Homo sapiens: one gene and its partners. The protein of the gene in region 1 purifies or fractionates together with the protein of each later gene. This does not show direct contact. Each region holds a gene or a part of one and is shown in the gene's direction. Other genes may lie near its edges. The genes, in order: PHACTR3, KCNK3, RRP12, CAPRIN1, AMH, ATP10B and LSM14A.

The links.
Region 2: the proteins of PHACTR3 (region 1) and KCNK3 purify together in Homo sapiens (affinity purification with mass spectrometry; one large-scale study listed by BioGRID and IntAct). This does not show direct contact.
Region 3: the proteins of PHACTR3 (region 1) and RRP12 purify together in Homo sapiens (affinity purification with mass spectrometry; one large-scale study listed by BioGRID and IntAct). This does not show direct contact.
Region 4: the proteins of PHACTR3 (region 1) and CAPRIN1 purify together in Homo sapiens (affinity purification with mass spectrometry; one large-scale study listed by BioGRID and IntAct). This does not show direct contact.
Region 5: the proteins of PHACTR3 (region 1) and AMH purify together in Homo sapiens (affinity purification with mass spectrometry; one large-scale study listed by BioGRID and IntAct). This does not show direct contact.
Region 6: the proteins of PHACTR3 (region 1) and ATP10B purify together in Homo sapiens (affinity purification with mass spectrometry; one large-scale study listed by BioGRID and IntAct). This does not show direct contact.
Region 7: the proteins of PHACTR3 (region 1) and LSM14A purify together in Homo sapiens (affinity purification with mass spectrometry; one large-scale study listed by BioGRID and IntAct). This does not show direct contact.

What each region holds. Positions count from the first base shown.
Region 1 is NC_000020.11:59,768,540-59,772,039, forward strand, and holds part of PHACTR3 (phosphatase and actin regulator 3), read left to right. Parts: intron 1-3,500.
Region 2 is NC_000002.12:26,691,240-26,695,521, forward strand, and holds the start of KCNK3 (potassium channel subfamily K member 3), read left to right. Parts: upstream 1-1,482; 5' UTR 1,483-1,636; coding exon 1,637-1,919; intron 1,920-4,282. UniProt on the Homo sapiens protein: K(+) channel that conducts voltage-dependent outward rectifying currents upon membrane depolarization. Voltage sensing is coupled to K(+) electrochemical gradient in an 'ion flux gating' mode where outward but not inward ion flow opens the gate.
Region 3 is NC_000010.11:97,370,341-97,373,840, reverse strand, and holds part of RRP12 (RRP12-like protein), read left to right. Parts: coding exon 1-11; intron 12-103; coding exon 104-266; intron 267-640; coding exon 641-795; intron 796-1,037; coding exon 1,038-1,105; intron 1,106-1,674; coding exon 1,675-1,768; intron 1,769-2,759; coding exon 2,760-2,918; intron 2,919-3,044; coding exon 3,045-3,125; intron 3,126-3,280; coding exon 3,281-3,386; intron 3,387-3,500.
Region 4 is NC_000011.10:34,093,231-34,096,730, forward strand, and holds part of CAPRIN1 (caprin-1), read left to right. Parts: intron 1-3,248; coding exon 3,249-3,443; intron 3,444-3,500. UniProt on the Homo sapiens protein: mRNA-binding protein that acts as a regulator of mRNAs transport, translation and/or stability, and which is involved in neurogenesis, synaptic plasticity in neurons and cell proliferation and migration in multiple cell types.
Region 5 is NC_000019.10:2,248,005-2,252,122, forward strand, and holds AMH (muellerian-inhibiting factor preproprotein), read left to right. Parts: upstream 1-1,318; 5' UTR 1,319-1,328; coding exon 1,329-1,740; intron 1,741-2,332; coding exon 2,333-2,475; intron 2,476-2,634; exon of another isoform or gene 2,635-2,647; coding exon 2,648-2,756; intron 2,757-2,844; coding exon 2,845-3,004; intron 3,005-3,094; coding exon 3,095-3,953; 3' UTR 3,954-4,069; downstream 4,070-4,118. Other genes in the region: SF3A2 (splicing factor 3A subunit 2), read left to right, coding at 1-542. UniProt on the Homo sapiens protein: Plays an important role in several reproductive functions. Induces Muellerian duct regression during male fetal sexual differentiation. Also plays a role in Leydig cell differentiation and function.
Region 6 is NC_000005.10:160,618,212-160,621,711, reverse strand, and holds part of ATP10B (phospholipid-transporting ATPase VB), read left to right. Parts: intron 1-761; coding exon 762-1,365; intron 1,366-3,500. UniProt on the Homo sapiens protein: Catalytic component of a P4-ATPase flippase complex, which catalyzes the hydrolysis of ATP coupled to the transport of glucosylceramide (GlcCer) from the outer to the inner leaflet of lysosome membranes.
Region 7 is NC_000019.10:34,214,004-34,217,503, forward strand, and holds part of LSM14A (protein LSM14 homolog A), read left to right. Parts: intron 1-1,120; coding exon 1,121-1,297; intron 1,298-1,592; coding exon 1,593-1,658; intron 1,659-3,500. UniProt on the Homo sapiens protein: Essential for formation of P-bodies, cytoplasmic structures that provide storage sites for translationally inactive mRNAs and protect them from degradation. Acts as a repressor of mRNA translation. May play a role in mitotic spindle assembly.

The sequences.
Region 1 (3,500 bases):
GGGGCTGGTGCCCTCCCCTCTGCGATCTCACCTAATCCTCATTGTGCTTCTTCCCAGTTTTCATGAAAGAGGGAACTGCCACCTTTTGGAAGAGGTGTCAGCTGCTGAGACAAGGAGAGCCCGGGCATGAGCTCGGGAGGGCTGGGTCCCAGCCCTTGGCTCTTTTCTGGGGACCTTACTGCCCCTTATGGGGTGAATGTTCAATCTGGAGGGGACTCTTGGGTGGAAAATGCTTTCAGTGGGGCATTTTCCTTGTACACCTAACACGAATTAAGTATTCCAGTCTAACTGATGATTCTCAGCCAGATACCACAGAAACGGAGGAGGTGAGATGCACCCCACAGGGGGCCTCTTTAGCTGGGACTGCAGATGTCCTGGATGGGTTAGATGTGGGGCTGTGGTGCCCTGTGGTTCCCCAAGTAGTATTGGTTTGTGGGAGAATGTGCTGCTGGGTGGGTGGAGGGATGAGTGAGGGGGCGCCCCCGCCACCCCACCACCCTGAGACTTGGCCCCAGCTGTTCTCCCTGACAGAACATTCTCCCTTCCTGCTTTGCCTGGTCAGTACCTTTGCATGCTTGGGACCACAGCTCAAGCTGTTTCTCCTCCAGGGGAGCCAGCCCTGACCCTTGACCTCATAGCACCATGCGCCCCATCTTCCAGCATTTACCACATTGCCCCACCTTGTTTAGTGGGTTGAATGGTGTCACCCCAAAATTCCCATCCACCTGGAACCTCAGAACATGACCTTGTTTGGAATAAGGGTCTCTCAACTGCCATTAAGTTAAAGATCAAGCTGAGCTCATGCTGGATTCGGTTAGGCCCTGAATCCAATGACAGTGTCCATGTGACAGGCAGGACAGGACACACAGGGATGGGACTGATGCATCCACAGAACGCCAAGAATTTTCCGGGGGAGAGGCCTGGGACGGCATCTCCCTCACAGCCTCAGAAGGAACCAACGCTGCCAGCATCTTGATTTCAGACTTCTGGTCTCCAAAACTGTGAGAGTTGTTCTGTTGCTTTGGGCTGCCCAAGGAGCCATACACGCCTTGTCTGTTGGATGGTTTGCCTCTCTCTAACCACCTGCCCCCCAGACAGTAGTCCCTGAGAGACGGCCACACGTCTGTGTTCACTGTCAAATCCAAGTGCAGGCATAGTACAGGGCATACAGCAGGCACTCAGCAAGTGCAGATGATGGTTGGATGGATGAATGAATGAGTGAATGAATGCATGCGTGCTCTGAACCCTGTCTGTCTGCTTTCTGCATCTTTCTACATCTCTGTAGATGAATCCAAATATTCAGTCTTTATGCAACATGGCCACATAAATTACAGTACAAAGTTTGAGGCAAAACTGTGCTACTTTGCATTTTGTTATTGTCTTTGTGATAGCTCCCTTTTTCCTCCATTGAAACCTAAAACCATTTAAAGTCCATTCAATTAGCCACCATCCACCTCATTTTATTCTGGCGAATGTATAATTTGTTCCTGGCCCTCAATAACTTGGTAACCCAGAGAGTTTCCTGCCTCTCCCAAGCTTGGGAAGGTCGAGCCTCAGATGGCACAGGTCTTCATTCTGACTCCACACGCCCTAAATTCTGGCGTTCTGTCCCCAGTCTGCGGACACTTCTGGCTTCCGCCCTGCCCTCAGTTGCAAGGACATCAGGGGATACTCTGACACTTATGCGTTTCCATAGGGACTGAATTGAGACTGGGAGGTGGAGGAGGGTAGTTCCGAGCTATGGGTCCTGGCCTGGCTTCTTCCTGCACAGACTACATTTTGGTGACTTTGATTTAATTTTCTCAGTTCCTCTTTTTCCTTTTCCTTTGGGAAAAGGTTCATGTGCTTCAGCATGTGAACACTAGATGGTAGCAAAGAAGAAAGTCTCCTTACCTGGGCTTCCCTTGCTGCAGGAGGGACCCTGGCCCAACTGAGTCTCCACCCAAGGCAGGACTGCAGGTGTCTTAGTTCATCTGAGTGACTTATAAACCACAGAAATTTATTCGTCACTCTTCTAGAGGCTGGAAGTCCAAGATCAGGGTGCCGGCAGATTTGGTGTCTCTGATGAGGGCTTGCTTCCTGGTTCATAGGCCAAATTCCTGGACTTTCTTGAAAAGTCTTCATCTCTGATCACCCTCTGAGTCACTACAGGCCCATTAAGGTGGGCAGGTTCTCCTCTGTGTGCTGTGGTCCCCACCCTGCCCCCATGGAGAAATTGCAGGAGGTCCTTTGCATTCCTGGGTTTCACCTGCCTGGTCCCTGGAGATGCGTTTACCCCTCTCCCTTTTACCTCTCCTTTACCCCTGCTGTCACCTGGTCCAGTTGGTAACGCTCAACTCTGCGGGATGGGAGTCCCACAGCCTCTGCCAAGTGTAAGTGGAGCTGGGTGCGATGTGCTGTTCTCAGCCCCCACCTTTTCCTGGCAGCCTGCCCCTGAGGTGGCTTCTGAACCTCAGCTTCCTCATCTGTGAAATGGGGGTGACAAGTGGTCCCCTGCACAAGCTGGGTGGGGCGAGCCAGGCAAAGCTCTATGGGGGCCGTGGGGGCAGTGCTGGTTGTCACATCTGTGATTGACAGTGGGGCAGAGACCTGGGTGGGATCCCAGCTCCACCAAGCTGAGCGAGAGCAGGCAAACCACGCTGCCTCAGTTTCCCTATTTGTACAAGAGGGCTAGTGATTCCTTCCTCATGGGGCTGGGGTGAGAAGTAGAGGCAATGATGGTTAGAGACAGAGGGGCTGGGGGATGCTGCGTGTCACCTGCGTGTGCTCAGGAGTGGGGCACTGTCCTGAGCAGGAGCAGCCTGGGGAGGCTGAGGCCAGTGGGGAGAGGACAGCGCAGTGTGCAGAAGCTGGGGATGGGTCTCCCTGCAGCCCCTGCCCTGCCTGGCCACTTCTTGCATGGCTGGCTCCTTGTCATTTCTCAGGTCTCAGCTCAAAGTTTCCCTCTGCAGAGCAGCCTTTCCTGACCTCCCTCTCCCAAACCAGCTACCACCTCCCCCCGACCAGCCCAGTACTCTCAGCCCACCTGCGTGGTGCCCTCTCGCCCCCCTCCCTCCACCACTCTCTCTCCCAGCCCTTTTCTCTCCCTCTCCTTCTGTCTCCTTCTCTATTCTACAATCATCTGCTCTCTTTCTGTCTGCCTGGCCTCTGTCTGTCTCCACCAGCTGACGGCAGGGCCTGGCCCGTTTCCCTGTGGCCTGGCCTTGTGTGGCCAAGCAGGTGCTTGTAGAGAAAGCGAAATAACTAAAGTCCTCCACGAGGTTTACAGTTTCCTTTTGGGTTTTGAGGAATACTTTTTATTGATGCTGTCCACATCCCAGGATTGTATTGGAAGTTTGTTTCTGGTTTTTAGGGAATGGGGTAGTTTAGATCTGGTTGTTTTGCTGGTGGGATTAAAGGGATCTGGTGTTTGCACCAGTCCTGCCAGGACGCTTTTGGAATGAGAGTTTGTGCTGAACACCTAAGAGCTTCTGGGCCTGTGCCAGCTGCTAGGCTCCTGA
Region 2 (4,282 bases), on another chromosome or scaffold:
GTCCGGCAGTGACAGGTCAGCCCAGCCTGTGGGTAGACAGTGCTCCAGCTTCTGGCTGACTGCCTCCTGAGTCTGCTCTCAGTCAGGGGCCTTGGTGTCTCTTCCCTGTCTCTCTGCCTGGCCCATGCCAGGGTCCTGTGAAGGACTTTTTAACCCTTCTTGGCACTGAGATTTGCATTCCAATCATTCTGCTCACTCAGCCCATCCAAGTCTGGAGTTGTTTAGAGCTGGGCAAGGCCTGTGGGATCATCTGCTACGACACCTCGTTGAAAAGATAAGGAAACAAGGCTCTGAGAGGGTCAGTAATGCCTGAGTTTCCACTACCCTTCCCACCTCACCACCATAGCCACCATGTTTGACAAATGAAGAAACTGAGGCATAGGGACCCCCTCTCCTGCCCCAGTTCCCGCAGTCTGCCAGTGAGCCTCCTGCTCTGGGCCCCACCTGCCCAATTCCAGCTAGATCCCGGTTCTGCTGGGATGCCCTAAGGTGGTGGCAGGTGCTATCTCTGGCAACTCAGCCTAAGCCCAGCCTGGTGCACGGGTGCAAGACAGGAACCATGGGAGTCGGGACAGCCTAGAAGCCCCTGGGAGCGAAGCAGGAGGCCTAGACTCCCAGCCTGTGCCTTCTCAGCCAGTTCCAAGAACTGTGCTGACCTGGGAAGGCACACATTGCCTGAGAACAGGGCTTTCCCTTGGGTGTCAGCTCATGTGTGCCCAGGTCCACAGCTGGGCCCTGCCTGCTTCCAAGACAGCCAGAGTCTGGCCCAAGGGAGGAAGGAGTGTGGCCTGGGAGGAAGGAACGCTTGGCTGAGTCCCAGTGCTGTCACGAAATCACTGCGTGCCCATGCGTGTCACTTGACCTCTCTGGGCCTCCATTTCCTCATCCATAGGATAAGGGCAGGACAGCGAGGCCCCAAGTGCCTCCTGGCTGCAATATGCTGTGATGAGGGTGGAGGGTGGGGTGGGGAGGGGCTCGCTCTGCCTTCCTTGCCTTCCTGTCTGTTTCTCTGTCATTAGTTTATCTCCAGCAATCCAGGCCTCTCTGTCTCAGTCTGTTGCTCTCTCTGTTTCCATCTTTTGCTCTGTATTTTTCTGCCCGCCTCTCTTCTTTTTCTGTCTGAGTGCACCTCTGATTTTATCTCCTCCTCTGTCACACAGCCCCCTTCCCTCAGTCCTACACTGCCTTTCTCCCATTCTCCGTAGTTATCAGCGTTTCGCTGTCTAGTTTTCTCTGTCTCTCGGGCTCGCTCTCTCTCTCTTTCTCTCTCTCTGTCCTGCCCGGGCTCTCTCGCGGCCGCCCCTCCCGTCCCCTCCGCCAGCCCCCCTCCTCCCTCCTCGGCGCGTCTCCCCAGTCCTTATTTGGCTGGGCGGGAGGGCTGGCGGGAGGAGGCGGCCTGCGGGCGGGGGGCGGGGGGCGGGCGCGGGGCCGGGCGGAGGAGGGCGGTGGGTGGTGCTGAAGGGACAGCTCCGCGGCGGCGGCGGCGGCGGCGGCCCCGGGCGCTGAGCGGGTGCCCGGCGCGGAGAGCGGCGAGCGCAGCCATGCCCCAGGCCGCCTCCGGGGCAGCAGCAGCGGCGGCCGGGGCCGAGGCGCGGGCCGGGGGCGCCGGGGGGCCGGCGGCGGCCCGGGCGGGACGATGAAGCGGCAGAACGTGCGCACGCTGGCGCTCATCGTGTGCACCTTCACCTACCTGCTGGTGGGCGCCGCGGTCTTCGACGCGCTGGAGTCGGAGCCCGAGCTGATCGAGCGGCAGCGGCTGGAGCTGCGGCAGCAGGAGCTGCGGGCGCGCTACAACCTCAGCCAGGGCGGCTACGAGGAGCTGGAGCGCGTCGTGCTGCGCCTCAAGCCGCACAAGGCCGGCGTGCAGTGGCGCTTCGCCGGCTCCTTCTACTTCGCCATCACCGTCATCACCACCATCGGTAACGGCTCGCCGGGCGGGGGGCGGGAACCCAGGGCTGGGCGCGGGGCTCCGGGAGTCGTCCGGGGCCGGCTGGGGCTGGGGGCGGGGGCTCCCCCGAGAGGGGCTGGGCGCCGAACCCTGCGCTCGCAGAAACCCGAGTTCAGCCTGGCGTGTGTGCTCCGCGGGGACGGAACTCGGGGAGGCGTCGATTCCTGGCTCCGGACCTGACTCTCCGGCCGGGCCAGCCCTAACTTGGCCCTGCCATGTTGCATAGGCCCCCAGGGACTCCGAAGTGTGTGAGAGGGGCAGGGACGACCGGCGGAGGCTCGGGCAGGAGGGGTGTGGCCGGGCCAGGCCCTGAACAGGGCGCTGAGAGTGAGCGGCGGGAGAGCGCCAGTGCTCCGTATCCCTGAGGATCGGCTTCCACAGCCTAGCAGGTCTACACCTGCTGGGCTCTGGGGAGGCATGAGGATGTCGGAATGCGGCACTTCGGGGCACTTGGGGCCACCCTATAACGGCGGCTGTGAGTGTACGTGTGTCTGCGTGTTTCAGCTCCAGGAGTTTGGTCGCCACCAGTCAGTGCCTGTGATTTTCTCAGAGCGGCAGAATTGGTGCGGGAAGCCAGATCTGGCCTTGTCAGCCTTCTTCTCTGCTGTCCCAGCAAAACAGTCACCTCACAGGAATAACCCCAGTTCTTTCCAAGCCAGGGCAGATCACCATGTAGGAGGCCACACGTACACCCAGACTGTCAGACAACACAGGCATAGGCACACATGCACACAGATACACACAGGCACTCACAGGGTACACACAGGGCGGGCACACACACACACACACACAGAGAGAGAGACAGAGAGAGAGAGAGAGAACAAACGTTGCCCAGGAAAGGAATCTCTAGCCAGGCCCTTGGTGGTGCTATTCAAAACTGTCCAGACGGGAATAACACCTTACCTGTCCCCAACACCCTATGATTTCAGCCCAGCTCCATCACTACCGTGATATATGACCTTGGGCAAGTCCCTTCCCCTGTCTGGGTCTCAGGCTCACCTCCAGACAAGGAGGGGTGGCCAAAATGATCTCAAGAGCTCCTCCCCAGCCCCGACGTGCTTGGATTCTGAGATGAAACCCACCTTCCCCCAAAGCCCATTGAGATGCCTCCAGAAGCAGTTTCCTCTGTCTTTACTGTTCCCTCTCCTCTCCCTAGTCCCCTTCCCTGCCTTGATCAGACTCCCAGGGGTTCGTTGCCACTTAGCGCAGCCCATGAAGATGGCATTGTTTTCCTGGGAGTCAACAGGAGCTGAGGGAGTAAAAGGCAGGACTAGACACTCTTCCTGCGGTCTATCCACTGCAGGACACTGTTCCAAGAATCTACGGCTCCCTGGGGACCATGGGGAGCTATGCTGTGTCGTTTCTGGATTCTTCTCTTGGAAGAGGGAGGAAAGGGCCCTGGGAGTGGATGTGGCCCAGCTGGGGCACCTCTGGGTCCTACTGGTCCTGTGAGTTTAGGATAGGATGATCAGACTTAGGTCTGCCCAAAGAGGAGCCCGCTTCCTGAAAAACACCAGCCCAGATTTGGTCTGCAGTCTCTTCCACTCTCACACCCCACTACTATTTGCCAGGGTTTCAGTAGCTGTTTAGCTGTCTGGAGAATCAAAAGAATCAGACTGAACATCTTTGGACCCTCTCTCTCCCTCTTTTCCACACGTCAAGCCTTCACGCGTGTCCCCTTTCCTTCTCAGGCCCATGGTCCCCAGCTTCATAGTAACCTCCCAACTGACCTCCCTGCCTACCCCACAACAAGGCATGCTCCCCTGGACAATGCTGCCAGAAAGAAAAACTCAGCTGTCACCAAACCAATTCCCTTCTTGGAATCCCTCAATGACTCTCCACTGTCCATGGAATCTGGTCTATGCTCCTTATCTCAAATTTTGAGGATCTCCATACCTGGCTCCAACCTCTATGTCTGACTTCACATCTCACTTCTTACTTATGTGATCCCTCTCGATAGCTGCCAACCTGTCCTCTGAGAATACCTTAAGTATGCCTGTCTGGCATGCCTTTTTCTCTGCCCTTTTTCTTTTCTTTTTTCTTTTTTTGAGAGAAAGAGTCTCACTCTGTCTCACCCAGGCTGGAATGCAGTGGTGTAATCATAGTTCAGCACAACCTCAAACCCCTGGCCTCAAGCGATCCTCTCACCTGGGCCTCCCAAAGTGCTGGGATTACAGGTGTGAGCCACTGCGCCTGGCTCTACCTTCTATTTATCTTGTCCATGCTAACCTTCCAGGTCCAGCTCAAATCCCCCCTCCTCCTCAAAGCCTCCCAGGCCACTGCTCTGGACAACTGCAGGTCTCACTGTGAGGATGATCTGGGTGACACGCTGTT
Region 3 (3,500 bases), on another chromosome or scaffold:
TCCAGTGGCAGGTAAGGGTCAGCTGGGGGAGGGCGTGGGGAGAAGCACACAGGGGCACAGGTGGCTGCGTGTCACCTTCCTTTATTGTCCCCTCCTTCTCCAGATGTGGACACTCCTGCCTGGGTTCTGCACAAGGCCTACAGATGTGGCCATCTCCTTCAAAGGGCTGGCACGGACGCTGGGCATGGCCATCAGCGAGCGTCCAGACCTGAGGGTCACCGTGTGCCAGGCCCTGCGCACCCTCATCACCAAGGGCTGCCAGGCAGGTACGTGTGGGCTGTGGGAGTGGGGGCTGGGGAGGATGACACAGGTCCCTGGCCCCATCCCCTGGCTTGCTACACTCCTTGCCAGGCAGAGCCACAGAAACTCACCTCTGGAGCTCATCCTTTGCTGCTTCTGCTGCAGACCCCAGGGGATAACTTTGCTGGCTCCCTGGGGTTGGAGCCATCGAGGACCATGGGCCACTGGGGCACCAGGCTCTCCATGCCCTGGCTCAGCTTCTGCCACAGAGAGCCCCAAACCCATGGATTCCAAGTCCTGCCAGCTCCCCCAAGAGAGGGCCTCTGGGCCACAGCCCCAGCAGCCACTGAGGCACAGTCAGCTCCTGTGCCTTTAGTGCAAACTTTGATCCTTTTACCAGAGGCTGACCGTGCTGAAGTGAGTCGCTTTGCCAAGAACTTTCTGCCGATCCTCTTCAACCTGTATGGGCAGCCCGTGGCAGCCGGGGACACTCCAGCCCCTCGCCGGGCTGTGCTGGAAACCATCAGAACTTACCTCACCATCACTGACACTCAGGTGAGCCACGGAAGGGAGGGAAGGAGGGAGGAGGGGAGCTCTCAGGTGGGCAGGGTCAGAGAGGCCGAGACCCTACCCACCAGGGCTCACGTGGGTCTCTGTGTTTTGGAGCACATACCAGCAGTCATGGCTTGGGCAGGGCTGGGGGCTGATGGGGAGGCCGCTCTGGGACTGCTGCCATTGCTGCTTTCTTTCGCTCCTCCCCAATGACTCTCTTCTCCTCATTCCCTCGGGGCCACAAGTTGGTGAACAGTCTCCTGGAAAAAGCCAGTGAGAAGGTGCTCGACCCTGCCAGCTCTGACTTTACCAGGTAACATGCTCAGGGCCTCCCACTTGAGCTGGAGCAGCCCAGGGAGCTGGAGGGTGCATCTGGCAGAAGCACTGTGGGTTCCCTCTTGCATTATTTAAGGAAGCCTTGAAGTATTAACTCTCCAGGCTGTGCTGAGAGGCTGTGCTGACTAGTTCCTTCTTCCTGGAGAGGCCATTTAGTCTGGTAGGGAGGAACAAGGACCCAGGAGATACACTGCCCAGGTTCTGATCCCAGCCCCGTCACTCATGGGCTGTGTGACCTTGGACAAATTACTTATCCATTCTGCCTCTAAGGCCTCATCTGTAAAATGGGCACGATAATAGTTCTTGCAACAAGGTTGCTATGAGGATTGAAGGAGTTAGCAGGTGTAAAACACCAGGAACGGTGACTGGTACATCATGAATGCTCAGTTAGGTACTAGCTATTATTATTGTTCATGAGCTCCTTCAAGCCCCTTGTCCTCACCCTGACTTCTCCCACCTCCCCATACCCAGTAGACGTAAGAACACTGGTAGTCTGCGCCCTTCTCCAGCTCCCCATCCCTCTCCTTGTCCTCCTGCCCCGAGCAGATTGTCTGTCCTGGACCTGGTCGTGGCCTTGGCTCCGTGTGCTGACGAAGCTGCCATCAGTAAGCTATACTCCACCATCCGGCCCTACCTAGAGGTGAGCCTCGGGGGCCAGGAGCGCCACACAGCCACGCTTGGGGGCAGATGGGCTGTGGGAAGGTGGGGCCTGTCTTCATGTCTTTGTCCCTTGCTGCTTCCCGAGATCAGGTCCCTGTCTGCTTTCTCCTGCAGTGGCTTCTCTTTGTGTCCTGTGTAGCCCATCTGTCTTGCAGGTCCCAAAGGGACTGAAATGCACAGCTGTGCTTAGGCCTTGCGTGCTGAGTGACTCTTGTAGAACCAAGGCCATGCTCCTTTGCCTGGCTCACTCCCCAGGCCCATCCCAGACCGGCCTGAGCTTTATCCCACCCAGTCCACTCTCTACTTCTGCTGCAGCCTCCTTCAGCTGCCTTAAGCCTCCCTGATATAACAGGCCCTGTCTGTGCCTTTGCAGGGTTTGGGTCCTCAGCTTGAAATGCCCTCTGCTGTGGCCAGCAACCCTGCAGATCTCAGCCCAGCAGTGACCCCCTGAAAGCTGCCCCCATTGCCACAGTTTAGTAGCAGTTACCTAACAGTGTGAGAAGTGCTCTGGGGCAGCACTGCAGGTGGACATGGAAATCCAGGGCCAGGCCACGTCACCTCAGGAAAGGTGTCCGGCGTTGGGGGTTGGGGGAGTGTGACAGAGAGCTGGTTTGGAGGAGCAAGGAGTTGTCAGTCTTGGAAGGAGAGAGAAGAGTGCTCCGGCTAGAAAGAGCAGCAGATGTGCAGGCCTTGGCGCGTGCCAGGCACCATGAGCTCAGGCCACTGGAGTGAGCACTGTCCAGAGCTGGGTGAGTGGAGTGGATTGGTGGGCCCCACGGCACACACCCCCAACCCCTGTGCCTCGCCCAGGAGTTAGCCACTCGCTGTCCACATTCCACTGGTCCTCTGTCAAGCCACATGAGCCCCCACGGACCCCTGCTCAGAATCCCTCCAGTGCTGGGGGATGCTCCGTGGATAGCATTGGACAGGGAGTGAGCCCCAGGCCTCCCTCACCGGTTCCTGTCTGCCAGAGCAAGGCCCACGGGGTGCAGAAGAAGGCCTACCGAGTGCTGGAGGAGGTGTGTGCCAGTCCTCAGGGCCCCGGGGCCCTCTTCGTGCAGAGCCACCTGGAGGACCTGAAGAAGACACTGCTGGACTCGCTGCGGAGCACCTCCTCACCCGCCAAGAGGGTGAGGGCTCTAGGGCCACCCGCTCTGCCGAGGGAGCCTGGGCAACACCAGGAAAGGAGCCACTGTTGAGGCTTGTTGGGTGGAGGTAGCATTGAGGGGTCCTGACTGGTAGCCCTTTGCCCACAGCCCCGTTTGAAGTGCCTCCTACACATCGTGAGGAAGCTCTCAGCTGAACACAAGGAGTTCATCACTGCCCTCATCCCAGAGGTGAGTGTGCGGGTGTGTTTTAGAGGGGGGTCCCTGGAATGTGGCTCTTAAGGGCCTCAGGATCCAGGGAGGGCAGTGATGGGAGTGGGAGGACTCGATTCGCTTCCCGGGCAGATGGCTCAGGGAGCAGATGCTGATGGAGTTGTCTTGGCCAGGTGATCCTGTGCACCAAGGAGGTGTCGGTGGGCGCACGGAAGAACGCTTTTGCACTGCTCGTGGAGATGGGCCATGCTTTCCTAAGGTTTGGCTCGAACCAGGAAGGTGAGGCCCAGGGGGCTGGGGGTGGACACTCTGCTCATAGACTGGGTGGGGGGAAGCACCCCTCAAAAAAGGTGGGGAGAGCTCTGTGCCCTGGCCCTGGGCAGGCTGCTCCTC
Region 4 (3,500 bases), on another chromosome or scaffold:
TGTTGCCCAGGTTGGAGTGCAGTGGTGTAATCAGATACTGGAGCCTTTAACTCTGGGGCTCAAATCCTGTACTGGAGCCTTTAACTCCCCACAAGTAGCTTGGACTGCAGGCTTTTCTCAAACTCAGGGCCTCCAGCAGTCCTCCCACCTCTACCTTATAGGCATGAGCCACCATGATGTCTTCTTTAGTTCTTTAATTCCTCAGAATTTAATTGGAATCCCACAACAAACCAGCAGTCAGAGGAGTTAATACTTTCATTTTGTCAGCCCGATTTTGAAAAGTTGTAAAATTTTCTAATTATTCAATTTCTTGGTAAACTTGGATCAGCATTAGATTTTTCAGTAGTAAATTCTTACACATCCTGTAGTATTCAGTATCACTAATATGAAGCTCGAATCTTCCATACTCTGATAGAAGTTATCAGTTATACTATGCTCAGCTTCCAAATGATAAAAACTAGTGGTGTGATCACCATGGCTCACTGTAACCTCTGCTTCTGGGTTCAAGGGATCCTCCTACCTCAGTCTCCCAAGTAGCACAGGCCACCATGCCTGGCTAATTTTTTTTTTTTTTGTATTTTTAGTAGAGAGAGGGTTTCACCATATTGTCCAGGCTGGTCTCGAACACCAGTCACATACGCAGCAAGTTCTCTTTAATCTCAGGGCCTTCATACTTACTTTCCTTCTTGCCGAAAACTTTCTCCCACTGATAAGTACATGGATTGCTTTTTCTATTTTTTTAAAAAAAGTTCATTTGTTTATTTTTAATTGAGAAGTAGAAACTATATATATGTGTATTTATGGTATACAGCATGATGTGTTGAAATGTGTGTCCGTTGTGGGCGGGCTTCATGGCTGGCACCTATAATCCCAGCTACATTTGAGGCTGAGGTGGCAGGATTGCTTGAGGCCAGGCGTTCATGATGAAATAATATGTATACATTGTGGGCCGTTGTCCAGTGCAGTGATGCAGTCTCGGCTCACTGCAACCTCCGCCTCTTAGGTTCAATCGCTTGGGTTCAAGCGATTCTCCTGCCTCGGCCTCCTGCCTCAGGCCTCAGGTGATCCACCCGCCTCGGCCTTCCAAAGTGCTGGGATTACAGGCGTGAGCCACCATTCCCGGCCTGATATTTGTTGAAGAAATCATTTCAGTATGTCCCATCATTTTAGAAATTTTATTTTGAATTAGTGTCTAATCAGGAACAACATGACAGAATCTTTGGCTTTTTAAAATGGCCTACAAGTTTATACTTTACCAAAATTTAAGTAGGAATTTGGGTATTTTAAAATAAAATGAAGGCTGGGTGTGGTGGCTCACGCCTGTAATCCCAGCTCTTTGGGAGGCCCACTTGAGACCAGGAGTTTGAGACCAGCCTGGGCAACACAGAGCCCCACCTCTATAAAATAAATACAGAAATTAGCAGGGTGAGGTGGTGAATGCCTGTAGTTGTAGCTACTCAGGAGGCTAAGGCCGGAGGATCACTTGAGCCCAGGAGTTCAAGGTTGCAGTGAGCCAAGATTATTTGACTGAACTCCAACCTCAGCAGTACTGGGTGAGAGAGCTAGACCTTGTCTTAAAAGTGAAAATTAAATAAAATAAAGATCACACTTAAGTTATTATGCTGTGAGTTTCTTCCTTTCTTTCCTTTCCTTTTTCCTTTCATTTTTTGAGACAGAGTCTTGCTCTTGTCTCCCAGGCTGGAGTGCAGTGGTACGATCTCGGCTCACTACAACTTCTTCCTTCCAGGCTTAAGCCATCCTCTCACCTCAGCCTCCCAAGTAGCTGGGACCACAGGCATGCACCACCATGCCTGGCTAATTTTTTGTATTTTGTTGTTGTTGTTGTTGTTGAGATGGGGTCTCACTGTGTTGCCCAGCTGGTCTCAAACTCCTGAGCTCAAGTAATCTGCTCAGCTTGGCCTCCCAAAGTGCTGGGATTACCAGTGTGAGCCACTACACCCAGCCTGGCTATGAATTTCTTACAGTGAGATTTGATCAAGATTAAAAGCTGTTATTGATAAAATGATTCTAAAATTCAGTTCTTTTGGCTACTTTGTACATGGATACACATGAACCATTTTACAAGGAAAATGTTATGTGTATTTGTCATTCACTTACAATTTTAAATTTTGGGAATATAATAAAAGGCAATCTATGTAAAAAGATGACACCGATGTAGTTGGTTTACTAAGTAATTCAAGAGGAGCAGTGGCTCTCTCTTTTTCTCTAGGTATTCCCTAGTGCTTTCATCGTAAAATAGGATTCTAACAACTATTAATGTATTTGGAGTTTCTTAAGGGTGTAAAATAGGTCAAGTAAAGATTTTCAAGAGTCATACAGCTGCTTTTCTCTCTGCCCCAAAAGGGGAGATTTGGGTTGGCCAGCAGCTTCTGACCCTTGTTGTTAGTGTGTGGGCCTTCCTTTGTTCTGTTGCCTTCCTCACCTCCCAAAGGTACTTTTAGCACCCTATTTTTTTCTCCTCTTTGAATTATAAACATTGTTCTGTAGTATTGAATTTTTGAAAATTTCTAGATTCTAGAACTCTGTCCATTGTGGATGGAGCTTGTATATATGTTAGTGTGTACCTTAGTCTAGAACCTTCAAGTGGGTTGAGTGCCAATGTGAGTACCATGTGATTGTTTTCTAAATTGGCTATACTTGCCATTTTAAATACTTTGAAATGGAATTTGGCATTAAGGGCTACAAGTCGAAGGCCTCTGCTGATTAAACTATGTAGTTGATGACATATTCTACCATCTAGCTGCTTAAATATGAGAGAGTGGTTTTGTATGTTTTACTAAGTAAAAAAAAGGATATTTAAAAGAATAAGAAAACTTCTACCACTAAGGAGCTTTATAATGAAAAGAAGTAATTAAATGGTACAAAATGGTAATGTACTAAGAGTAAATCTTTTGAGTTATTTTGGGTCTCTTGTGCTAAAAAGTAGATGCCTTTCAGAAGACGTTAATATAGCCTTTCAAATAATTTGTTTGGAAGGATCAATCATGCACCCTGCTTTCAAAGGTTTGGAATTGTGGTTGGAGAATTTTACCCCCAATAGCTGAGTCTAAGGGTAGGAGAAAGGTAAGAGACTTTATTCATGTGTAGTTTTTCTTATCATTGTATGCAAATTTAAGGATTAAACTTTAAGGAGACTGTATAAGACACTTCTTAAACTAGAAAGTGCGTGGGAGAACAAACGGTAATGAGCTGTTTATGTATATATCTTTTTCTTTTTTAAATTATAGTGGTTGGCACTTACCATGGTTCCCCAGACCAGTCCCATCAAGTGACTGGTAACCACCAGCAGCCTCCTCAGCAGAACACTGGATTTCCACGTAGCAATCAGCCCTATTACAATAGTCGTGGTGTGTCTCGTGGAGGCTCCCGTGGTGCTAGAGGCTTGATGAATGGATACCGGGGCCCTGCCAATGGATTCAGAGGTAAAAAAATAAAAAAGGAGGTTCTAATGACCTTTTACTAGTTCAAATTATTTTTTG
Region 5 (4,118 bases), on another chromosome or scaffold:
CAGGGGTCCACCCCCCGGCCCCAGTGGTGCATCCCCCTGCATCTGGGGTCCATCCCCCAGCTCCTGGCGTCCACCCCCCAGCTCCTGGCGTCCATCCCCCAGCCCCTGGGGTCCACCCACCAACCTCTGGGGTCCACCCCCCAGCTCCTGGAGTCCACCCTCCAGCCCCCGGGGTTCACCCACCAGCCCCCGGAGTCCACCCACCAGCCCCTGGGGTTCACCCACCAGCCCCAGGGGTCCATCCTCCCCCATCAGCGGGGGTTCACCCCCAGGCCCCGGGGGTGCACCCAGCAGCCCCCGCCGTTCACCCTCAGGCCCCAGGGGTGCACCCACCAGCCCCAGGGATGCACCCTCAGGCCCCGGGGGTCCACCCCCAACCTCCCGGGGTCCATCCGTCGGCTCCTGGGGTCCACCCTCAGCCTCCGGGAGTTCACCCCTCAAATCCTGGGGTGCACCCCCCAACTCCCATGCCCCCAATGCTGAGGCCCCCACTTCCCTCCGAAGGCCCAGGGAACATACCTCCCCCTCCCCCAACCAACTGAGAAGCTGCTCCCTCCCCCAGCAAGCCCAGCGCCAGGTGCTCTTGCCTTTTCCCACTGAGAGAAGGCTGCTCTTTTGTACTGCCCCCCGCTCATTAAACAGCCTCCCCCAGCCCTGAGTGCACTGATGTCCGCAGCGCCGCCCTACTGTGTCAGTGTGTGTGGGAGTGCCAGGCACAGCACCATCCCCCAGTTTGGGCCGACTGGGGAGGGCCTGGGGCCCGCCAGGAGACACCTGTGGGAGGCCTGAGAGATGGCTGTACCTTGGAGATGGCCTGGTGGAGGACAGACCCCACCAGCCAGCTAGGAGGGGATCTGGGGTCCTGTTCTGGGGAGGGAAGAGCAGACTCCACGATATCCTTGGGGTCTCCAGATAGCCCACCAGGGGTGGGGAGGGTGAGCAGGGACAGGGCGCCCCCACTGACTTGGGACCCTCCTCCTCCAGGCCCACACCTCAGCACCCAGGACATCTGGGCCCCCCGCCCCCAGCGCTGTCTAGTTTGGTTGCCTGGCCGTCACTCCCAGCCTGGTTCCCACTCCTGTGTCTTCTGGGGATGGCCCTCAAGGACGGCATGTTGACACATCAGGCCCAGCTCTATCACTGGGGAGGGAGATAGGCTGCCAGGGACAGAAAGGGCTCTTTGAGAAGGCCACTCTGCCTGGAGTGGGGGCGCCGGGCACTGTCCCCCAAGGTCGCGGCAGAGGAGATAGGGGTCTGTCCTGCACAAACACCCCACCTTCCACTCGGCTCACTTAAGGCAGGCAGCCCAGCCCCTGGCAGCACCCACGATGCGGGACCTGCCTCTCACCAGCCTGGCCCTAGTGCTGTCTGCCCTGGGGGCTCTGCTGGGGACTGAGGCCCTCAGAGCAGAGGAGCCAGCTGTGGGCACCAGTGGCCTCATCTTCCGAGAAGACTTGGACTGGCCTCCAGGCAGCCCACAAGAGCCTCTGTGCCTGGTGGCACTGGGCGGGGACAGCAATGGCAGCAGCTCCCCCCTGCGGGTGGTGGGGGCTCTAAGCGCCTATGAGCAGGCCTTCCTGGGGGCCGTGCAGAGGGCCCGCTGGGGCCCCCGAGACCTGGCCACCTTCGGGGTCTGCAACACCGGTGACAGGCAGGCTGCCTTGCCCTCTCTACGGCGGCTGGGGGCCTGGCTGCGGGACCCTGGGGGGCAGCGCCTGGTGGTCCTACACCTGGAGGAAGGTATGTGGGGCCCAGCCCCAAGCTTGGCACCGCCGTCTTCCTTCAGGTGGGCCGGGTCCTCCTAGGGAAGATCAGGGGCTGGCAGAGCCCCCACCCTGGGCAGGGAGGCTGTGGTCTTGTTCCTAGGACTGGGTTGCGGGTCCGTGGCCTGGAAGGTGGGCACCACACTCTGTCCTGTCCCCGAAGCCCAGCTCTTAGACTTGCCCCTGCCTCGGTGCCAGGGAGAGAGCTGCTGCCTTCTCCCCACCCCTGAAGACGACGCAGGGCTCGGGGCCAGTGGAACCCTTCTTCCCACAGCCCCAGCCTGTTCTCAGGGCCGCTGGCCTAAGATACTCCCTGCGGGGAAGGGGCTTCATCGGGCACCCCAACCCAGAGACCCCAGGGCGGCAGCCCCACCCACAGCCTCAGACGCAGCCCCTGCCTGCCCCTGCCGTCACCGCTCCCTGGCTGCAGGAAGGCAGCTAAGAGGGGCACCCTTGTCCCCCGCTTGAGGTCCCCTGCACAGTGGCCAGAGCGGCAGGGACAGATCCCAAAGATTCCCGGGGGGTGTGGCCTTCAATGGCTCAGGCGTCCCCTGCTGTCCCGGCTGCAGTGACCTGGGAGCCAACACCCTCGCTGAGGTTCCAGGAGCCCCCGCCTGGAGGAGCTGGCCCCCCAGAGCTGGCGCTGCTGGTGCTGTACCCTGGGCCTGGCCCTGAGGTCACTGTGACGAGGGCTGGGCTGCCGGGTGCCCAGGTACCAGGGAGTTGCATGGGGCAGTGCCCGGGCCGTGGCGGGGGGCATGGATTTGTTGCAGGGTCTGCAGTACTGAGAACAGCGTAGAACCAGTGGCGATGGGAGGAAGGGGACCGGTAGAGCGGGGCTGGGTAAGCCTCCATCCAGCCGGGCTGAGCCCTGGTCTCCGCAGAGCCTCTGCCCCTCCCGAGACACCCGCTACCTGGTGTTAGCGGTGGACCGCCCTGCGGGGGCCTGGCGCGGCTCCGGGCTGGCCTTGACCCTGCAGCCCCGCGGAGAGGGTAGGTCCGCGTGGAGAGGGACGGGGAGCCGGGTCGACTGCCCCCGGGCCCCCAGCCCCTGAGCCAGCCGCGTGCCCACCCACCGCAGACTCCCGGCTGAGTACCGCCCGGCTGCAGGCACTGCTGTTCGGCGACGACCACCGCTGCTTCACACGGATGACCCCGGCCCTGCTCCTGCTGCCGCGGTCCGAGCCCGCGCCGCTGCCTGCGCACGGCCAGCTGGACACCGTGCCCTTCCCGCCGCCCAGGTGCGCGCAGGCACCGGGACACGGGGCAGGAGCGGGCGGGGGCGGCGTGGCCTCGTGGCCGCTCTCAACTCCTCCAATTGCGGGTTCCAGGCCATCCGCGGAACTCGAGGAGTCGCCACCCAGCGCAGACCCCTTCCTGGAGACGCTCACGCGCCTGGTGCGGGCGCTGCGGGTCCCCCCGGCCCGGGCCTCCGCGCCGCGCCTGGCCCTGGATCCGGACGCGCTGGCCGGCTTCCCGCAGGGCCTAGTCAACCTGTCGGACCCCGCGGCGCTGGAGCGCCTACTCGACGGCGAGGAGCCGCTGCTGCTGCTGCTGAGGCCCACTGCGGCCACCACCGGGGATCCTGCGCCCCTGCACGACCCCACGTCGGCGCCGTGGGCCACGGCCCTGGCGCGCCGCGTGGCTGCTGAACTGCAAGCGGCGGCTGCCGAGCTGCGAAGCCTCCCGGGTCTGCCTCCGGCCACAGCCCCGCTGCTGGCGCGCCTGCTCGCGCTCTGCCCAGGTGGCCCCGGCGGCCTCGGCGATCCCCTGCGAGCGCTGCTGCTCCTGAAGGCGCTGCAGGGCCTGCGCGTGGAGTGGCGCGGGCGGGATCCGCGCGGGCCGGGTCGGGCACAGCGCAGCGCGGGGGCCACCGCCGCCGACGGGCCGTGCGCGCTGCGCGAGCTCAGCGTAGACCTCCGCGCCGAGCGCTCCGTACTCATCCCCGAGACCTACCAGGCCAACAATTGCCAGGGCGTGTGCGGCTGGCCTCAGTCCGACCGCAACCCGCGCTACGGCAACCACGTGGTGCTGCTGCTGAAGATGCAGGTCCGTGGGGCCGCCCTGGCGCGCCCACCCTGCTGCGTGCCCACCGCCTACGCGGGCAAGCTGCTCATCAGCCTGTCGGAGGAGCGCATCAGCGCGCACCACGTGCCCAACATGGTGGCCACCGAGTGTGGCTGCCGGTGACCCCTGCGCCGCGCGGACTCCTGCCCCGAGGGTCCGGACGCGCCCCAGCTCGCGCCCCTTCCCATATTTATTCGGACCCCAAGCATCGCCCCAATAAAGACCAGCAAGCAACCGGCTGGGGTGTCCGTGCGTGTTAGGGGGCCCGTGGGACCTCCCTTGCCGTCT
Region 6 (3,500 bases), on another chromosome or scaffold:
ATTAGGTGGTACAACTTGCAACTATGAAACCAAGACAAGAAGTTTCACCCAGGCACTAAACCACAACCTCCCTTCATTATGCCCAGATTCCAAACCACCCTGAAAATCACTTCAGCACTGAAAAGTCAGCATGTTATCAGAAGTCTTCAGGAAGTTTTTGGAGGCAGAAAGCTTTATCTTAAAAATTAATTCATTTTTAAGAGGGGAAGAAGTACCATTTGGGGAAAGACAGTAGGCACCTCCCAATTTTCAAGTTAATGTGGGAGCTTCAGCTGGCTGGGAGCTTCAGCTGGCAGGTAGCTCAAGAGCCCAGCCTCTGGAGTCGAGGAGACCTGGGTTTGAGTTCCAACTCTACTCCCTACACACTGGGTGATCATGGCCAATTTATGTAGACTTTTTGTACCTCAATGTCCTCAGCCATAAGTTGGGTTGATGATAGCATCCCACAGAATTATTGGGAGGATGAAATGAGATACCGCACTCAAAGATAAAGCAGAAGCATTTATAGTGAGAGTTCAGGAAATGTGAACCCTTACTATGAGTTTCTGATTCTCATCTCCTTTTCCTTCCTTTCTCCACGCTCACAGTGGGATGATCAAAAGATAGTGGAAAATGACCATTGTCAATGCTTAGAATTTCAGGGCTGGAGGAAAATATCTGGCTTCACTTATTGCAAAAGTACCTTCATATTCCGCATAAGACAACTTGGTATTATTTCCAACATTGAGAGTAATATTCCACTTTCCTTCTTTGGCCACAAGGTCACCATCAAACCCTCAAGCAAGGCTCTGGGGACGTCCCTGGAGAAGATTCAGCAGCTCTTCCAGAAGTTGAAGCTATTGAGCCTCAGCCAGTCATTCTCATCCACTGCACCCTCTGACACAGACCTCGGGGAGAGCTTAGGGGCCAACGTGGCCACCACAGACTCGGATGAGAGAGATGATGCATCTGTGTGCAGTGGAGGTGACTCCACTGATGACGGTGGCTACAGGAGCAGCATGTGGGACCAGGGCGACATCCTGGAGTCTGGGTCAGGCACTTCCTTGGAGGAGGCATTGGAGGCCCCAGCCACAGACCTGGCCAGGCCTGAGTTCTGTTACGAGGCTGAGAGCCCTGATGAGGCCGCCCTGGTGCACGCTGCCCATGCCTACAGCTTCACACTAGTGTCCCGGACACCTGAGCAGGTGACTGTGCGCCTGCCCCAGGGCACCTGCCTCACCTTCAGCCTCCTCTGCACCCTGGGCTTTGACTCTGTCAGGAAGAGAATGTCTGTGGTTGTGAGGCACCCACTGACTGGCGAGATTGTTGTCTACACCAAGGGTGCTGACTCGGTCATCATGGACCTGCTGGAAGACCCAGCCTGCGGTGAGTCCTGCCTTACCAGGGTTCCAGGCACAGAGAGTTCTATAGTTTAAGAAGCAGTGTGGAATGGTAATAAGAAGCTCAAGTTGTAGTGTCACCTGGTATGGCAGGTCCCAACTGGAATACAGACCTACAAGATGTTTTCCTCAAATATCCTTAAAACATGCTGCATTTTACATCTCCTGGACCTAGGGAATCACAGTGTCCATTAGCATATTTAAAGACTGTACAGTCTTGTAGCAGATAAACATCTTTAACTTCATCCCAGTTTTCCAAACTCATTTAAACATGGATTATCCACACAGTCTTTTGCACTAGAACATCCATTATCTTACCATGGAACACATTGTGGTCCTAACTCTTCATTTTGGAGAAAAGCACACTCAACTTAGAAAGAAAAGTGACTTACAAGAGGTAACATGGTTAACTAGTGTTAAATCCCAGACCCAGGTATCCTGAATTCCAGGTCAGAGCTTGTTTCATGCTGCCAGAATTCTGCACTGGGCTTGGTGTACTCTGGGAAGCCTCAGGTGTTCCTCTTTATTATCCTTTTCCCCAGCCTCCCCCAGATGGATTTTCATAAACGTGCACTGAGCCAGAAAAATGTTCCAAAGTCCCTACATATCAGTGTCCAATTTTGGAACAGCATGAATTAGTGTGCAGCCGCTTCCTGATTGCTAACAAGGAGAAGACAGTTATGGGGCTATGATTCTCCCAGGATAGTAGATTCCAGCCAAGCTTCAGAATTGCCCAGGCAGCCCTGTGCCTCCTGCATTATCAGCCATGGATCAGGGCCAAGAGGTTTATGGGGATTGATTAGTGTGTAGAATGGGAAGGGAGCTAATTAGTTCTCTTTATTCCCAGACTCTGGCAGACAAGTGAATTCAGTACTTCTGAGTCAAGGGAGCCACGGCACTCTATCCCTCAGCAGCCAGTCATCCAAGCTGCCCTGGAGATGTCTCTTTATTTGCTCCTCACCTGATTGAAAAATGGATTAGAGATGCCTTCAATAGAAGTCACACACACAATGTTACTATAAGAATTGAGAAGCAAAACTTTGAAAGGAGGGAGAAAATGACCTCAGGTTTAATAATATTTATGGTGTTTAAATGTTCAATTTGATGCTGAGGTTCCTGGCAGCCTTAGCAAGAAGGTAAACTCCAAGGCTTACAAGTAAAAGACAAACAGGTTTAATCTCAGGAGCTGGTGTCTTTAAAAATAAAATATTGTAAATAGTGCCGAATCAGGCGATGCACAAATGAAGACTATGCTTAAGGCGCCAGCAACACCTGAAAAATGAGAAAATAATCTTTGAAACAAGTTTTATATTATATAAAAACAGCCTTGGAGTAGTATCATGGAAAAATCAGAGTTTTGTTGGACTTCATTATACTTTTCTGTTAAGAATTACATTTTTAATTTTGCATTATATACAAGGATGGGTGAGGTATACAAATTCTGTTCAATCTTAGGACCTTTAAAAAATCTCAATCCAGCCCTGGTAAAAAATGATTCTGAAGCCTAGCTCAGTTTTACAAGCGACTGATAAATGATGTCTGTGGCAGTTTAGATAAAGGAAGTGCTGATGGCATCAATCCCACCCCACACCAGCCAACCTTGGCTGAAAAATTCTTATTATAGAATTAGATAAAGGAACTGGAATTTCAAGAGAAAAAGACAAATTACCTCTGACAGAAACTTATGTACAACTTTACAAAGGGGACTTTGAGCAACACACATATTTTTCATACTACATTCATAGGAAATGCATAAAAGAATGTTTTCTCTAAACGTATTTCTTGCATTGAGAGAAGGCCTAGCTCAGCTAAACAAATGAAATGAGGAACTTAGCTAATGAGATCCAGGCTTGTAGATGTCTTGGGACCTAATTTGATATAAGACCTCAAGTAGAAGATAGAGAAGATGATAAATAGAGAACAGTTTCCAAAGTCAGTTGGCCATCCAGAGATCAACTAAAAACACCTTAGGTAACAATAAAGATTCAAACTTCTAGTCCCCTGATTCAGCTGGGCTTTAACTGGACCTGAGAATCTCAATTATTAAATTCCCAGGCGGTTCTCATGCAAACAGCTGTTTGGGAACAGTACCTTAGACCACCTACCTTCCTTACATAGCAC
Region 7 (3,500 bases), on another chromosome or scaffold:
AACTCCTGAGCTCAAGCGATCTGCCCATCTCAGCCTCCCAAATTGCTGGGATTATAGGTGTGAGCAACCGCGCCCAGCCAAACCCCATATTAAGCAAAAACTTGCCAAGAGATCTTTTAAAAGGCAAGGAATGAGTATGGCTACTGTGTAATTATCTGAAGGGTTTTTTTTGTTTGTTTTTTGGTTTTGTTTGTTTGTTTTTTTGCTGGCCTTTTAGTTTTTATGTTTAATTACCCAAGCCCCTAAAGCATTAAAGAACTTCACCTATCTAACTTTGTAGTTCTTTTACTTTATTTATTTATTTATTTATTTATTTATTTATTTATGAGACAGGGCCTTGCTCTGTCACCTAGGCTAGAGTGCAGTGGCACAATCTCGGCTCACTGCAGCTTCTGCCTCCCGGGTTCAAGCTATCCCATCTCAGCCTCCTGAGTAGCTGGGAACACAGGCACGCGCCACCACGCCTGGCTAATTTTTGTATTTTCAGTAGAGACAGGGTTTCGCCATGTTGCCTAGGCTGGTCTTGAAATCCTGGGCTCAAGCGATCCTCCTGCTTCAGCCTCCCAAAGGACTAGGATTACAGGCATATGCCACTGCGCCCGGCCCTTTACTTTCTTATAATAGAAATTTAATGGAGTTAATACCTGTAGATAGATGTAAAGGTATTGTTTTAGTCATCTACAGAAAGTACTAAGAAAGATTAAAACAAGTCACCATAGTCTTATGGTTGTCATTGGCGAAAGCCTGTGTTTGACCTGACTACAACATGATAATTTGTAGGATAATTCTAGGGAATCTCGTACCTGGCAGCAATTTTTTTTTTTTTTTTTGATGTAAACTCTTCCACTAAGTAGAAATAACAGATAAAATTGTGAGGGGGAGGGAGTTGTTTTGAAGCTGTTGAAGTTTTTTTTTAAATTATTATTATTTTTTATTTTTAACCTAATGACAAGCCCACTAAGGATACCATTCTTAATATCTGGTCTGATAAGTGGATTAATTCAAATTTGTGCTAAGGGTTTGAATTGATAGAAATAAAACTCTGGACAATTTTTTTTAGGGTCTAGATTATTTTGAAATCCCCAATAGGGTAGTTTGTTATCTTTTGGTTACATTTTAGGTCGCTCAAGCCCTCAGTTAGACCCTTTGAGAAAAAGCCCAACCATGGAACAAGCAGTGCAGACCGCCTCAGCCCACTTACCTGCTCCAGCAGCTGTTGGGAGAAGGAGTCCTGTATCAACCAGGCCTTTGCCATCTGCCAGCCAAAAGGCAGGAGAGAATCAGGAGCACAGGCGAGGTAGAACTTTAGCTGTTTACTGTTCCTTAATTGACTGATCAATGTTTTCCACTCACTTTATTTTCATTAGAAGGATTTACTTCATGTGAATGATCCCAGAAAATTAAACTGAATATGATAGAATGTTTGGTCTTTCAAATTTGACTCAAAGTGGTGGTGGTGTGGGTATAGTTTTTTGGGCATTGCACAGGCTTTGTTTTGGGTTTTTTGGTTTGTTTGTTTGCATTTCTAACTATGGAAGTTTTTGATGATGTACCCTGAGTTGATTTGGCACTTTGCATGTCTTCTTCTGTAGCTGAAGTACACAAAGTTTCAAGGCCAGAAAATGAGCAACTCAGAAATGATAACAAGAGACAAGTAGGTAAGTTCTTGGATCTAAAAGTCATATTCTATGCTTCTCAACAGGGAGAATATTTTAAATATATGATACATAATTACTATAAAAAAATGAAAGGCGGGGGTTGTGACTGTAAAGGAGGAGCACAGGGGAGTGTCACTGTGGTGACAGAACAGTCCTTTATCTTGATTGTGGTGGTAGTTTTGCAAATCTATATATGGTAGAACATCATAGAACTATGCATAAAGACATACCAAAAAATGAGTACATGTACAAACTGGTGACATCTGAGCAAGGTCTGTAGTTTAGTTAATTAGATTGTGCCTGTGTCGGTTTCTTGGTTTCGATAATGTACCATAATTATATAAGATGTGACTGTTGGAGTTTGGGAAGTTGGGTGATGGGCACAAGGGACGACTCTGAACTAGTTTTTCAATTTTTCTTTTCTATAATTACTTTAAAATAAAAAGATTTTTTAAAATTTTACTTTTCTGGGCCCGGCACAGTGGCTCACGCCTGTAATTCCAGCACTTTGGGAGGCCGGGGCGGGCGGATCACGAGGTCAGGAGCTCGAGACCAGCCTGGCTAACATGGTGAAACCCCGTCTCCACTAAAAATACAAAAAATTAGCCGGGCGCAGTGGCGGGCGCCTGTAGTCCCAGCTACTCAGGAGGCTGAGGCAGGAGAATGGCGTGAACTGGGGAGGTGGAGCTTGCAGTGAGCCGAGATTGCTCCACTGCACTCCAGCCTAGGCGACAGAGCCAGACTCTGTCTCAAAAAAAAAAAAATTTTACTTTTCTGGAAAAAAATTCTACTTAGTGGTAGGCCTTTTTTTTTCTGAGATGGAGTTTCACTCTTGTTACCCAGGCTGTAGTGCAGTGGTGTGATCTCAGCTCACGGCAGCCTCCGCCTCCCGGGTTCAAGTAATTCTCCTGCCTCAGCCTCCCTAGTAGCTGGGATTACAGCCGCGTGCCACCATACCCAGCTAATTTTTGTATTTTTAGTAGAAACAGGGCTTTGCCATGTTGGCCAGGCTGGCCTCAAACTCCTGACCTTATTTTCCACCCACCTCAGCCTCCCGAAGTATTGGGATTATAGGCGTGAGCCACCGCACCCAGCCAGGCAGTTATCTTTTAATATGTTCTTGAGTATTTCCTGCTAGAAGGATTTGTTCGTTTATATTTACATTTTCCTATGGCTTCTACTTTTGTGGTTTTTATGTTTTGTGTCAGTTTCAAGTTAGGATTATAAAATTGGTTTTCATTGTTTTCTATGCCTTTGGGAATGGAATTTTCTTCATGTTACAAGTTTGAAACGTTTCCTCATTAAAATTAAGCCCAGAGGCCAGGCACGGTGGCTCACACCTGTAATCTCAGCACTTTGGGACGCCGAGGCGGGCAGGTCACGAGGTCAGGAGTTTGAGATCAGCCTGGCCATACGGTGAAACCCTGTCTCTACTAAAAATAGAAAAATTAGCTGGGTGTGGTGGCACACGCCTGTAGTCCCAGCTGCTCGGGAGGCTGAGGCAGGAGAATCACTTGAACCCGGGAGGCGAGGTTGTAGTGAGCCAAGATCGTACCACTGCACTCCAGCCTGGGCAACAGAGCGAGAGTCTGTCAAAAAAAAAAAAAAAAAAAAATTGAGCCCAGATCCTGTTTTTGAATCAGTTGTTTAAGAGCTGTAGTTTTCTTTTATGATTATTGATTTAATAAGGTTTTATATTTTCTTTATCTGTTTTGTAATATATAACATTCTAAAATCATTCATTTTATTAATATTTTCAAATTTATTAATGGAAAATAAATTATAATTTTACAACTCTTCTAAATTAAAAAGGGAATGTATAATCTACCTTATTTAGAAAAT